Regions from separate parts of the Homo sapiens genome. Here regions 1, 2 and 4 are each linked to region 3. The links come from fine-mapping of genetic effects on gene expression. Tissue or cell type: whole blood. Region 3 holds a variant in brackets; each other region holds the start of a gene. Each region is shown on its reference strand, or each on the opposite one.

Region 1 (2,681 bases), not on the chromosome of region 3:
GGAACTGCCTGTGAGGCCGCCCTGCAGTGGGTTAGGGGGTTACCCGGCCTGGTTTGTGTCTGTCCCACATTCAATGCCAGGTGGGCCCAGAATTGCCCCGGGGGTCTCCGGTTGGTGTGAATGTGGGTCACCGTGGCCCCCACCTTTCCCATCTGGCAGATATGTGTCTTGTGCCTACGTCACGCCAGGCCAACCCAGCAAGCACGGGCCAGGCTGGAGGCCCCAGACTCTCCAGGGGGCTGTCTGGTCCTTGCACAAAACTGCAGACACTGCACGGACTGTCCCCATCCCCCAATTAAACAGCCAGCAGGACCAAGCTGGGCCGGGCGATTCCCCCGGTCACTCCAGACACCCCCACCCCCACTCCCCCAGGAAGTGGATCTTTCCTTTCAACTCTTAGATTCTTGGCGAGGGATCTGTCTGTCCCCACACTTCACTGTTACCCCTGAATAAGGAGCAGGAAGAGAATGGCACAGTTTTGGGGTTTTCTGATTTTTGTTTTGTTTCCTGTTCGTTGGGTTTTAAAATCTTTAGCAGCTCTTTTGCCGCTCAAGGTCTGTCCCCTCTGGAGGGCCACTAGTGTGCCCAGAGCTGCCCACGCTACGCAACATCACAGCACGGCGGCGCCCAGCCTGTTGCTGCGTCCCAGTGGCAGGAGCCTCCTCACAGGGCTGCCGAGCTCACGCGGGGCGGATGCCGCGCGCCACAAGCCTCCTTGAAGACTAAGTGTGGAAAAGAAAATATCAACGCCCACGAGATGCAGGGGGCGGGGGGAAGGTGGGGGAAACGAACCCTCGCGGATAGTTGGAAAGCCGTCCTAACGCATCAGTCCTGGGGCAGAGCGAGGAGACTGGGCCCGGGAACTCCCGGACAGAGAGCCCTGGCTCCCCGGGCGCGCCCTGCAGGTCCCCTGCCGAGGACGGGCCGGCGCCGGGTGGTCCGGGAGCGCGGTGCGCGGGGGTCCTCAAGAGCCCACCCGCTTCCTCCTAGGCTGCTGGAGTCCCCCGGGCTCCCCTCCCCCGCCGCCCGCCACATCTGGTTCCACTCAGGTCCTCCCCCACCTCTAGGCGCGCTCCTCCTCCCCTCTCCTCCCCCGCTTTCAGAAAAGCGGAGACGAGTTTTAAAAACCCAGTCACACACACACGCACACACGCTTCTGGAGAAAAGAGGGGGGAAAAGGAGGGAAAAGTCGAGAGCGGCCCGCGCCTCGGCGCTCCCCCCGCCCGGGCCCTGAAGTTGGCCAAGTTGGCAGCGCCTTACCCGGGAGGGCGGCGTCCCCAGGGGCGCCGGGACGGCCGAGGTGCAGGCACCCGAGGAGCAGGACGCAGCGCAGCAGGTGACGAGGCCAGGGCGCGGGGGCCGGCCGGCCGGGCCCCATCCCCGAGCGCGGCGCTCAGTGGACGCGGGGACCGAGGGCGCACAGGCGCAACGCGCTGTGGCAGCCCCGAGGCTGGGCTGTGATGACCGCCCGCAAGGGGCTCGCGTCCTCCTCCGGGTCGGGACGAAGTGATGCCTCCCGGGGAGGAGGAGGGAGGAGGCAGCCCGGGCGGAGGGAGGGCGGAGGGAGGAGCGCAGAACCGGGGAGGAGGGTTCGAGGGGTAGAGGGGAAGGGAAGTGGGCAGCGTGGGAGGGGAAGGGGAGGAGGCGCGGGTCTGGGGCTAGAGCGTCGGGAGGGAGAGAAAGGGGTGGCGGAGAGGAGGACACGCCGGGTCCAGGAGGACCCCAGCGTGCGCCCTTTCTCTTGCTGCTCTGTTTCCCAGTCTCTCCCCGCCTCGCCTTCCCTCTCTTCTGTCCCGGCCAGGATCCCCAGACGCTGCGTCACAACTCCCCCGCTGGCGCGGGCGGGGAAGCAACTGCAAAACTTTCCGCAAACTTCACGGCGTGGTGGGACCTGGGCTACGAGGTCCGGCCAGCCCGGGGCGGGGGCGTGCAGCTGACCCAGGTGGCCAGACCCGGGCCGCCAGCATCCGCCCCGCCATCCCGCCTCTTTCTGCGGGCGTCTCCAGCAGCCTAGCATCCCCTACCTCCATGCCGAGGAGGACCCCTCCCCCGGTCTGGTGGGGAAGGGGCGGAGCCCAGGGCCTGGCCACCAGGGCGAAGATTGGGGGAGGGGGAGGCAGAGCCCTTGTTACGTGTGCGGAGCGCAACAATTCTTGCACGTCTTGTTTTAGCATTTTCGTGACCCCTGTGTCAGTGTTCCCGGTGCAGGAGTGTAGCACTTTTGCTTGTTGGGGCTGCATCCAGAAACCTGGGGAAAATCTGTCCACTGGACGTCTCAGAAGACCGGCATCATCACTCCCACCAACTGGACTGCTGGCCGGTAGCAAAAGACCAGCTGGAAATTTCATAAAAGGTTAGACAATCCACAGTTACTCAGTGTTACGCAACAGGTCTCTGCAGCACAGAGCACGAACTGGGGAGTCAGGATGCTGGAGTCCAGCCCTGCCTCTCTGCGGATTCCCTGCCTGACCTTGGGAAAGCCTCTTGGGGTCTCGGGGCATAGGGCAGGACTGAGACGTTGAGACCCCAAGTGCAAAGAAGACACATTTCTCCTACCACGAGTAATCAAAAACACTATGAAACTGTAATATGGGCCGGGTGCGGTGGCTCACGCCTGTAATCACACTTTCGGAGGCCGAGGAGATTGAGCCCAGGAGTTGAAGACCAGCCTGGGCAACATA
Region 2 (2,681 bases), not on the chromosome of region 3:
AACATGGCAGAGTTTACTGCCAAAATGAATGATCTCCACTTCTAGCCACTTCTGACTCAAGCTGCCCTTCTAGGTTTAGACCACTCTCCCCAGTGAAAGATCAACAAGACGGGCTCCTGGGAAATGCCAAAGAGGCTTTGTTGCCTTGGGTTCAGGGGTCAAAGGTCTAGGCTGTTCCTTAAGTCTTTTTGATGTCTTTTTTTAACATTTTTGGACCCAAGGGTGGGTTTGGCTTAGCTCCATACTCCACGTTTGCTTGCCATTTGAACTTCAGAGATGAAAGGCAGATCCCATAGCACTTAAGAGATTTTCCAGAACACTAGCTGGTCAGGGCAGAGCTAAACCTAAACGCAGGCCATCTACTTCCTACTGCTGAGCTAGTGCCCTCTGGAAGCATTGGCATATGGTGGTGGCCTCTGCTGCCCTGGCTAACTTGAGTCAGGGTCAGGGTCTTCCTACCTGTAACCCCTTCATCCCCACCCCAGGCACTGAAGCCCCACCATCTGTTTATGAGGCGGGTGGCCACAGAGATAGGCTGATGGTGAGGGGGTTTCACACACTGCGGTAACTAAGGCCTGAGCCCCACCCACTCTCCACCCCTGCGCTTAGTCCCACTTGACAGATAGAAGATCCTATTGTCCCTGAGCACTGTTAAGGGCTGAACTTTGTCCTCCAAAATCCATGTTGATGTCCTAACACCTAGTACCTCAGAACGTGACTGTATTTGGAGATAGGGTCTTTAAAGAGGTATTAAGGGTAAACGCAGTCATTAGGGTGGGCCCTACTCCAATATGACTAGCGTCCTTATAAGAAGAGGAAATGTGGATGTGGACACAGCCACACGCTGAGGGAAGACCCATGTGAAGACACAGAGAGAAGGCAGCCATCTGCAAGCCAAGGAGAGAGGCCTCCGAAGCAACCAAGTCTGCCAACACCTTGATCTTGGACTTCCAGCCTCCAGAATAGTGAGAAAATAAATTTCTGTTGTTTAAGCCCCCTGTACTTTGTCATGGCCGCTTTAGTAGACTCATGCGGGCACTTGCTGTAGACGCTGACCCCCTTGACCCTCCCTCGCTGCCCCTGCATTCTCCTCCACACACCCCTGAGCCCCAGCCCCAGATTCATCAAGTCCTTAGAGTCAGGAGAGTGGGCTCCATAAATCTGCAGCTACATTTTCCCATTTCAGGGCCTTTGAGGAGTGCTGGTTTGTGCTTCAAAGTGGGCCAGGGAAGGATAAACTGCCTTTGGAGCATTTGAGAGATTGAGGAGAGAACAGGAATCACCCAGAAAACAGACTGACGAATATTTTGAGTTAGAATCCTGCCACCCATGACAAGTCAGCTCCCACCCCTCCAGAGTCTCCAGCTAGAGCACTTGCAGTAAGAGTTCAGTGGGCCTTTCCAGGCAGCCAGGCATGTGCTGCCCTCCGGATTCATTAACAGGGTTTCTTGGGGTCAGAGGAGGTGCCAAAGCCCTGAGAGAAGCCAAGCCCCAGAGGACTCCCAAGTTCTCCCCGCAGACTCATATTCCTCTTGTAGGTGGGAAAGGGACGGAGAGGTGCAGGGGGAACGCCCTGTTCCACATGCCGTATTTACTCTGGGCATGGCTAATGACTCCAGGGCCTTATCATTCGGCCCTCAGACTGGGCTGGGCAGGTCTGAGAGTTAGGGAAAGTCCGTTCCCACTGCCCTCGGGGAGAGAAGAAAGGAGGGGGCAAGGGAGAAGCTGCTGGTCGGACTCACAATGAAAACGCTCCTTCTTTTGCTGCTGGTGCTCCTGGAGCTGGGAGAGGCCCAAGGATCCCTTCACAGGTGAGAAGACGTCCCCGCACTGTGTTCAGCTGGGTAGTCCCATGCCCTGCAACTCAGGGCTGCTCTGGGGTAGGAAAGCTGATGGGGAGGTGAAGAGGAGGAGAAGCTGAGGGCTTGCGTCAATGCATGGAAGAGACTCATCCAGTGACCGCCTGTGTATGGCCTTAATCTCCAGTCCTCAACAAGTCATCCTCCTGCCTCCACCTCCACGGAGGTGCCTTCCCAAGTCCCAGGGGTCTTCTTGTGTTGCAAAAGAGCAGGAACCTGCAGTTGTGGTTTGTAGCTCAAAGCGCCCCAGGACTTCCCCAGGGGACTGACCATCACTGTCCCCAAGAGTTTTTCTGTCCCTTTAAATCAGCCCTTCGTGATGTTCATGTAAAACTGTAGACCGCCCCACATCTCCCATTTTCCTAGATCTCAAAGACCTCAGCTCCAGGAGGGGAGCCATTTCCACTCTAAGATTCTAAGACTCTATAGGGCAGAGATGAGGCCGGGCAGGCTGAGTGGCAGAGAGGACGCTGATCCCACCTGTATCCTGCGTGCTGTCTTGCAGATCCCCCCCTCCCACCCCATCTTCTCTAGTTGGCCCCTGAGAAAATGGGACGAGAATGGGGGGAAGAGGGAGGCAGAAGTACATCTCCTGCTTACATGGGGGTTTGTCTCCAGGGTGCCCCTCAGGAGGCATCCGTCCCTCAAGAAGAAGCTGCGGGCACGGAGCCAGCTCTCTGAGTTCTGGAAATCCCATAATTTGGACATGATCCAGTTCACCGAGTCCTGCTCAATGGACCAGAGTGCCAAGGAACCCCTCATCAACTACTTGGATGTGAGGCCTCCTGGGGTCAGGGCTGGGGAGAGGTGGGAGCGGGAGGA
Region 3 (2,681 bases):
AGGCTAGAGTGTAGTGGCATGTTCATAGCTCACTGCAGCCTTGATCTCCTAGGCTCAAGCCATCCTGTCACCTCAGCCTCCTGAGTAGCTGGGACGACAGGTGCATGCCACCATGCCTGGCTAATTTTGTAGAGATGGAGTTTCTCCCTGTTGCCCAGGCTGGTCTTGAACTCCTGGGCTCCAGTGATCCTCCTGCCTTGACCTCCCAAAGTGCTGGGATTACAGGCGAGAGCCACTGTGCCTGTCACCAACTCAGTCTTATTCATCAGTATGTCTTCTCCTTAAGCGGAGATGCTAACAATGTAGCATCTCCTGTGCTGAATTCCTGTAAAGTGAGGGTTTTTGTTTTTCCTACATCCATCTTCCTCTCCAGATTCCCTCTCAATTTCCAAGGTATTTAGCGTAAATGCAATATCTGAACTTCATTTATTTGGCAGATTTGTGTGGACTGCCTTTTCTGAACCTATTTGGGTGCTAAGGACTGTATGGATTTGGGTTCTTAACATGGAAAACGTCTGTGCCTGCGTAGTGTTGGGTCCTACCTGGCCACTTGGCTCTCAACACGGAGTGATGATGCCTAGGGTGTTTTGACGTGGGCAGTCAGCCCAGCCTGGAGAACTGAGGGGAGCATTTCTTTCTTTTTTTTTTTTTTCTTTTTTCTTTTTTTGGTGAGACGGAGATTTACTCTTGTTGCCCGGGCTGGAATGCAATGGCGCGATCTCGGCTCACTGCATCTTCTGCCTCCCAGGTTCAAGCGATCTCCTGCCTCAGCCTCCCGAGTAGCTGAGATTACAGGCATGTATTACCATGCCCGGCTAATTTTGTATTTTTAGTAGAGACGGGGTTTCACTGTGTTGTCCAAACTGATCTTGAACTCCTGACCTCAGGTGATCCTCCTGCCCCGGCCTCCCAAAGTGCTGGGATTACAGGTGTGAGCCACAGCGCCTGGCCGGGAGCATTTCAAATGATAGTTAGGACTTCCTTTTACTGTACTTAATAGCTGAAGGGGGCCAAAAGTGTCCATGTTTGCTGCCCTCTGGCATCAAAATGAGGTCCTTTTTAGTAGTGCTGCATTTAAAACAGCATTAAGAATACGTTTTTAGAACTTAGCTTTTTGCATTGAGGATGCGCAGGTGGCTGAGACTAACTTCTTTGCAGATGACCATGGTTGAAAGTCAGCTATAGAGTTGCACAACCACGTAGTTGGGCTTCACATATAGAAGATGTTGTCATTTTTTGGTAACTCTGTCAGACTTTACCAACCTGGCGCACAGTCTGGTTGGCACATAAACTTCACATTTGCTCTTCTCCAGGGTGTGGGGTGGCTGTTTAAAGAGGGTGGATATTCATGCTAATCTTTGTGTAGCATAACATGTTACTGCAACTTGCTTTTTTTTTTTTATCTGAAAGTTCAAGTAGATATCAGAAGGGAA[A/C]TGTTTGTGGGTGCTAAGAAGGTTAAAATTACCATTTTGAACAGAAATGATATTTGGAAAAATAACTTCCCTTTTAGGAAGGTAAATCAGTCATTTATATGCTATTTGTTGAATTCCTAGAATATATGAATATCATGTCACATGCTGTGCTGGTACTTTCAAATATAATAGAAGCAAGTAGGAGAAAGAGTCCCTGTATTGAAGAAACTCATTGGGAACACATGAAATTAATTAGAGGCATAGAGGGTTAACCAGCAATGTAAGGCCTAGATATGAGTCAGGGAGTGGTGCATGGGATGAGTGTTCTATGAGGTTGGAGAAGGATGAGATTGATTCTTCTTGCTAAGGTGACTAGGTAGACCTTCATTGAGGCCTTGAAGTATGAGCAGGATTCCAGGAGGTAAGAGAAGAAGAAGAAAAGCCAGGAAGGAAATGAGAACGGAAGGGATTTTTACTTGGGCAGAATATTTTCCTTGATGGGTACGGGGAACTAAGACTGGAATAGAAAATTGGAGTTGGATTGTGGAGCTCTGGAATGATGGCTTAAGGAGTTGGACCATATCCTATAGATCACAGAGGGCTGCTGAAATACTCTGATCAGAAGACAAAGGCAGCATGCTAGGGGATGTTAAGTGAGGACTCTGCAAAGGGGGTGGATGAGTTGTTGAAATTCTCTGTTATACCCTTCATGCCGAGTTCTCCCCTGTTGACTTATATGTTCTAGAGGATGGAGTTGGTTGACCGTAGGGTTTCCTTTCACTAGCAGAATGGAACCAGATATTGTAGGAGCCTAGCACATGGGTCTGTTACTAATATAGAGGACTGTTTAAATCTTGGAAAGCTTTCCTTTTGCCTTTGCCCCCATTGCAGATGGGGAGTGGGCAGGAATGACGTTCAGAATCAAGGGCCCATCAGGGTCTGTATTGGTCCCTTGTCCCTCTCCTCCAGTCCATCCATGTTGGGATACTCAGGGCATGGATGGTGTTTCATGATAGCATTTATCATTTTGATGATATGTGACAAAATAAGGCAGGCATCAAAATTCATATCCCTGTGATCTCTCTTTAATAGTGTCCTCCTGCTTTGGGGGTTATTAAGCTAGCCTGAACTTGAGTAAACATTTTTGGATGGGGTGAGAGGGGGGCTGATAAAAGTGGTTAGTAAATAGACAGTTGGAAAGGAGAACGGCCCGGGGGCTCAGGAGATGAGCCAGGGAACAAGGAAAGCAGAGATGCTAGTGACCCAGAG
Region 4 (2,681 bases), not on the chromosome of region 3:
AGGCAGCAAGAATCAGCCTGGGTTGGAGAAGCAGCTGACAGCTTGACAGCACTGATGTCCTGGGGTCAGCCTGGGTTATGGGGAGACCCCCATTTACCACGGCTCATCACCCTTCCCCCACACCCTGGCTGGGACACCTGAATCTCAGCCTCGGGTGGGCTGTGGGACTTTGCCCAGCCTCCTTTCAGATCCGGTCCTGGAGGACACGGGCGTCTGACTCTGCTGCCCAGGCCTCACGTCCCACCCACTTCCAGGACTACAGGATCAGTGCTTTGCTTCTCCCGGTACACACTAGTAACCACAAGCCCCACGGAGGCCCCTCCCTTCTGGCTCCCATCACCCAGGTGCGCTTCCAGGGAGCACCCAGGCTCGCCAGGGCATCTGCCCCAGTACTGGCAAGCCAGGGAGCCCATTCACTTGAGGGCCTCTGGAAGGAGCTCCGTGCAGGGTTCAGCTGGGCCAGGAGGTGCCAAACCCCACCCATCCTTGAGCCCCGGGGGACTCTGGGCCAGGACTCTGTCCTGAGGAGGAAGCCTCAGTGCCCCTGGCGAACCGCGCGGACCCACCTGCACTCTGCAGCCGCCCTGCGACAGCAGCCACTGCAGGCAGGCGAGGTGGCCGGTGGCGGAGGCGTCGTGGGCCGGTGTGGCGCCGTTGCGGGCGCGGGCCGCGGCGGGGAGGGCGGCTTCCTCCACCAGGAAGCGCAGACAGTGCAGCTTCCCAGCGCGGGCCGCGTGGTGCACGGGCAGCGCGTCCAGCGGGTCGCGCAGCGAGGGCCCCAGGAGGCCTGCGGCGTGCAGCGACCTCAGCACGTCCAGCTCGCCCTGCCGCGCCGCCTGCAGCGCCTGCTCCAGGGCCATGGTGCCGCGTGCGGCGCCGCGACTCCGCACTCAGCGCCTTCCCCAGGACGCCATGCACGTGTTCTTGCGGGCCAGAGGAGCCCGCGGTGCGGCCGTCGGGGATCTGCGGGCCGGGAGGCGGAGCGGCTGTGGGCCTGGCCTCCGCTCCGCGCTGCCTGGCGCTCCGCTCCGCCGCGCTCTGGGGCCGGAGCCCGCGGACGCCGGCTTAAGACTCGGGCCCGCCCCCACCCCGCCCCGCCCCGCCCCGCAGCCTCCGCCCGAGTTCCCCGCCCGCCCCCGCCGCGACGCGGGGACACTCGTGCGACTGGGGCAAGGTGCCCAGGGGCTTCTCTCCTAATTTGCCTCACGTAACAGTTGAGACCCCAGAGGGCAGCAAAACTGGGTTCGAATTGGAGAGCCGTCCAGGCACAGACAAATTCATTCATCTGCCCAGTGCCCGCTAACTGCGGTTCCAGGCGCCGGCGACGCAATTCCAGAGGTGATGGGGAGTGATTGTCGGGACCGCGTGGGCGGACAGGGAAAGGTCTCTGAGGAGGTGCCGTGGGGCTGGGTTTGAGCGGCGAGAAGGGTATTCCAGGCGGGGTGAGGAGCACGAGGACAACGGCCCTGAGGCAGGAGCAGCCCTGCCACGTCCCTGAAGGGCTCTGGGTCGAAATCCCCGGAGATTGCAAAGAGCCCTGCCTTCCAGGGTCCCTCCAGATCCGAGAACTGCCCCCAGAGGTTCCAGCGGGGAGGGCAGGAAGGCAGGACGGGAACCACTAGTGCGCTGGGAACGCCATGGCCTCAGGCCGCCCGCAGCCGCTGTCGGTGTGGAGGGGCTTCCAGCCACACAGAAGGCAGGGATGGGTGGGAGGTTAGGGCTTGTGGGGAGACGCGGGAGCGCCGGCATCCAGAGAGAGGGGGCTGAGACCCCTGCAGGGGCTCAGGAAAGTGCCAGAGGGCGCGGGCAGGAGAGCGAATGTGTGCCAAGCCACCCTGCAGGCTCCACTGAACACCAGCCGTGGGAGCGGCTAGTGCCCAAAGGACGCGAGGAAAAGCTGACAGAAGGTGGGAGCTACATGGCTGTGGGAGTGCAGGCGGCCTATCAGCGATCTTGAAGCACCCTGTGCCCTTCCTGTCCCAACACCCACCCCCTCTGGAGTCCCGTGGGGGCTTGGCCCCACCCCGGGCTGAAGGTTTCACTCCGCCCCAGCCCCAGCCTGGCACAGTCAGCACTGGAAATGCTGTAGAATGAAGGAAGCCCCTTCCAGGAACAGTGGGAGTCATAGTGCTAAACTCATAGTGCTAAACTCGGCAGCTGCCTCCGGTCCTTTCCCTGGGCCTGCCACCTAGTGGCGACCTGCGTGATGGCCTCCCGCGCTCCCAGGTGCCCAGGTAACTGGAGCTGCTGGGCTGTGCCTAGCCAGGTGGGTTTCCAACGACTTCCACCAGGCCAGATCGCCCTCACTCTCTCCATGGGACCTGTGGCCGCTGGAATCTGGGACGCTTGCCCAGTGGTTTGCAGACAAAAGGAAGGAGGAGTCATTTCCTCGCAGCCTCGCTGCTGGAGCTGGTGGCCAAAGCAACAGGCTCACTGCGGCTGGCGCTGCCCTCCTCTGGGTGCCCAGAGGCAGGTGTGCCGTGAGGCCAGCAAGTGGCAGGGGTACTGTTGGGAGGAGGTGCTAAAATGGCTTGTCTTGGGCACCCCTCCCCTGGGCCTCCTCCATTCCAAAAGGCCCTGCAATTTGTGTTCTCCACTCCTAAGGTGGCCACCTTGGTCATGGACGAGCTCATCTAGCACATGGTTTTGTGATTTTGTGGGCCAGGGCTAGGTGATGCTTT

What was found. PIP is the estimated chance that this variant, and not a neighbour inherited with it, causes the effect. A credible set is the group of variants that fine-mapping cannot tell apart.
Region 1: MRC2 starts here. The variant in region 3 is fine-mapped to the expression of MRC2 in whole blood (TOPMed, PIP 0.99).
Region 2: CTSE starts here. The variant in region 3 is the best candidate, but not a certain one, in a credible set for the expression of CTSE in whole blood (TOPMed, PIP 0.60).
Region 4: it holds the start of ESPN, and the variant in region 3 is fine-mapped to the expression of ESPN in whole blood (TOPMed, PIP above 0.99).

What each region holds. Positions count from the first base shown.
Region 1 is chr17:62,626,500-62,629,180 of GRCh38, reverse strand. MRC2 (mannose receptor C-type 2) reads right to left here and starts at 1,511. Exons shown (of 30, transcript NM_006039.5): 1 at 1,261-1,511. The coding sequence starts at 1,378. It overlaps LOC107985020 (a long non-coding RNA gene), which reads left to right and starts at 1,131. Exons shown (of 2, transcript XR_001752961.3): 1 at 1,131-1,336; 2 at 2,172-2,681. RefSeq lists silencers at 882-951, 1,152-1,591.
Region 2 is chr1:206,022,854-206,025,534 of GRCh38, reverse strand. CTSE (cathepsin E) reads left to right here and starts at 1,640. Exons shown (of 9, transcript NM_001910.4): 1 at 1,640-1,811; 2 at 2,478-2,634. The coding sequence starts at 1,744.
Region 3 is chr2:60,489,661-60,492,341 of GRCh38, reverse strand. All of the region lies in intron 2 of BCL11A (BCL11 transcription factor A), which reads left to right. Among named protein-coding and RNA genes, the nearest start is that of BCL11A, 63 kb to the left of the region's middle. The variant A/C (reference allele first, on the strand shown) is at 1,434.
Region 4 is chr1:6,423,135-6,425,815 of GRCh38, reverse strand. ESPN (espin) reads right to left here and starts at 1,040. Exons shown (of 13, transcript NM_031475.3): 1 at 567-1,040. The coding sequence starts at 860. RefSeq lists silencers at 861-910, 941-1,100 and enhancers at 1,097-1,710, 1,711-2,325.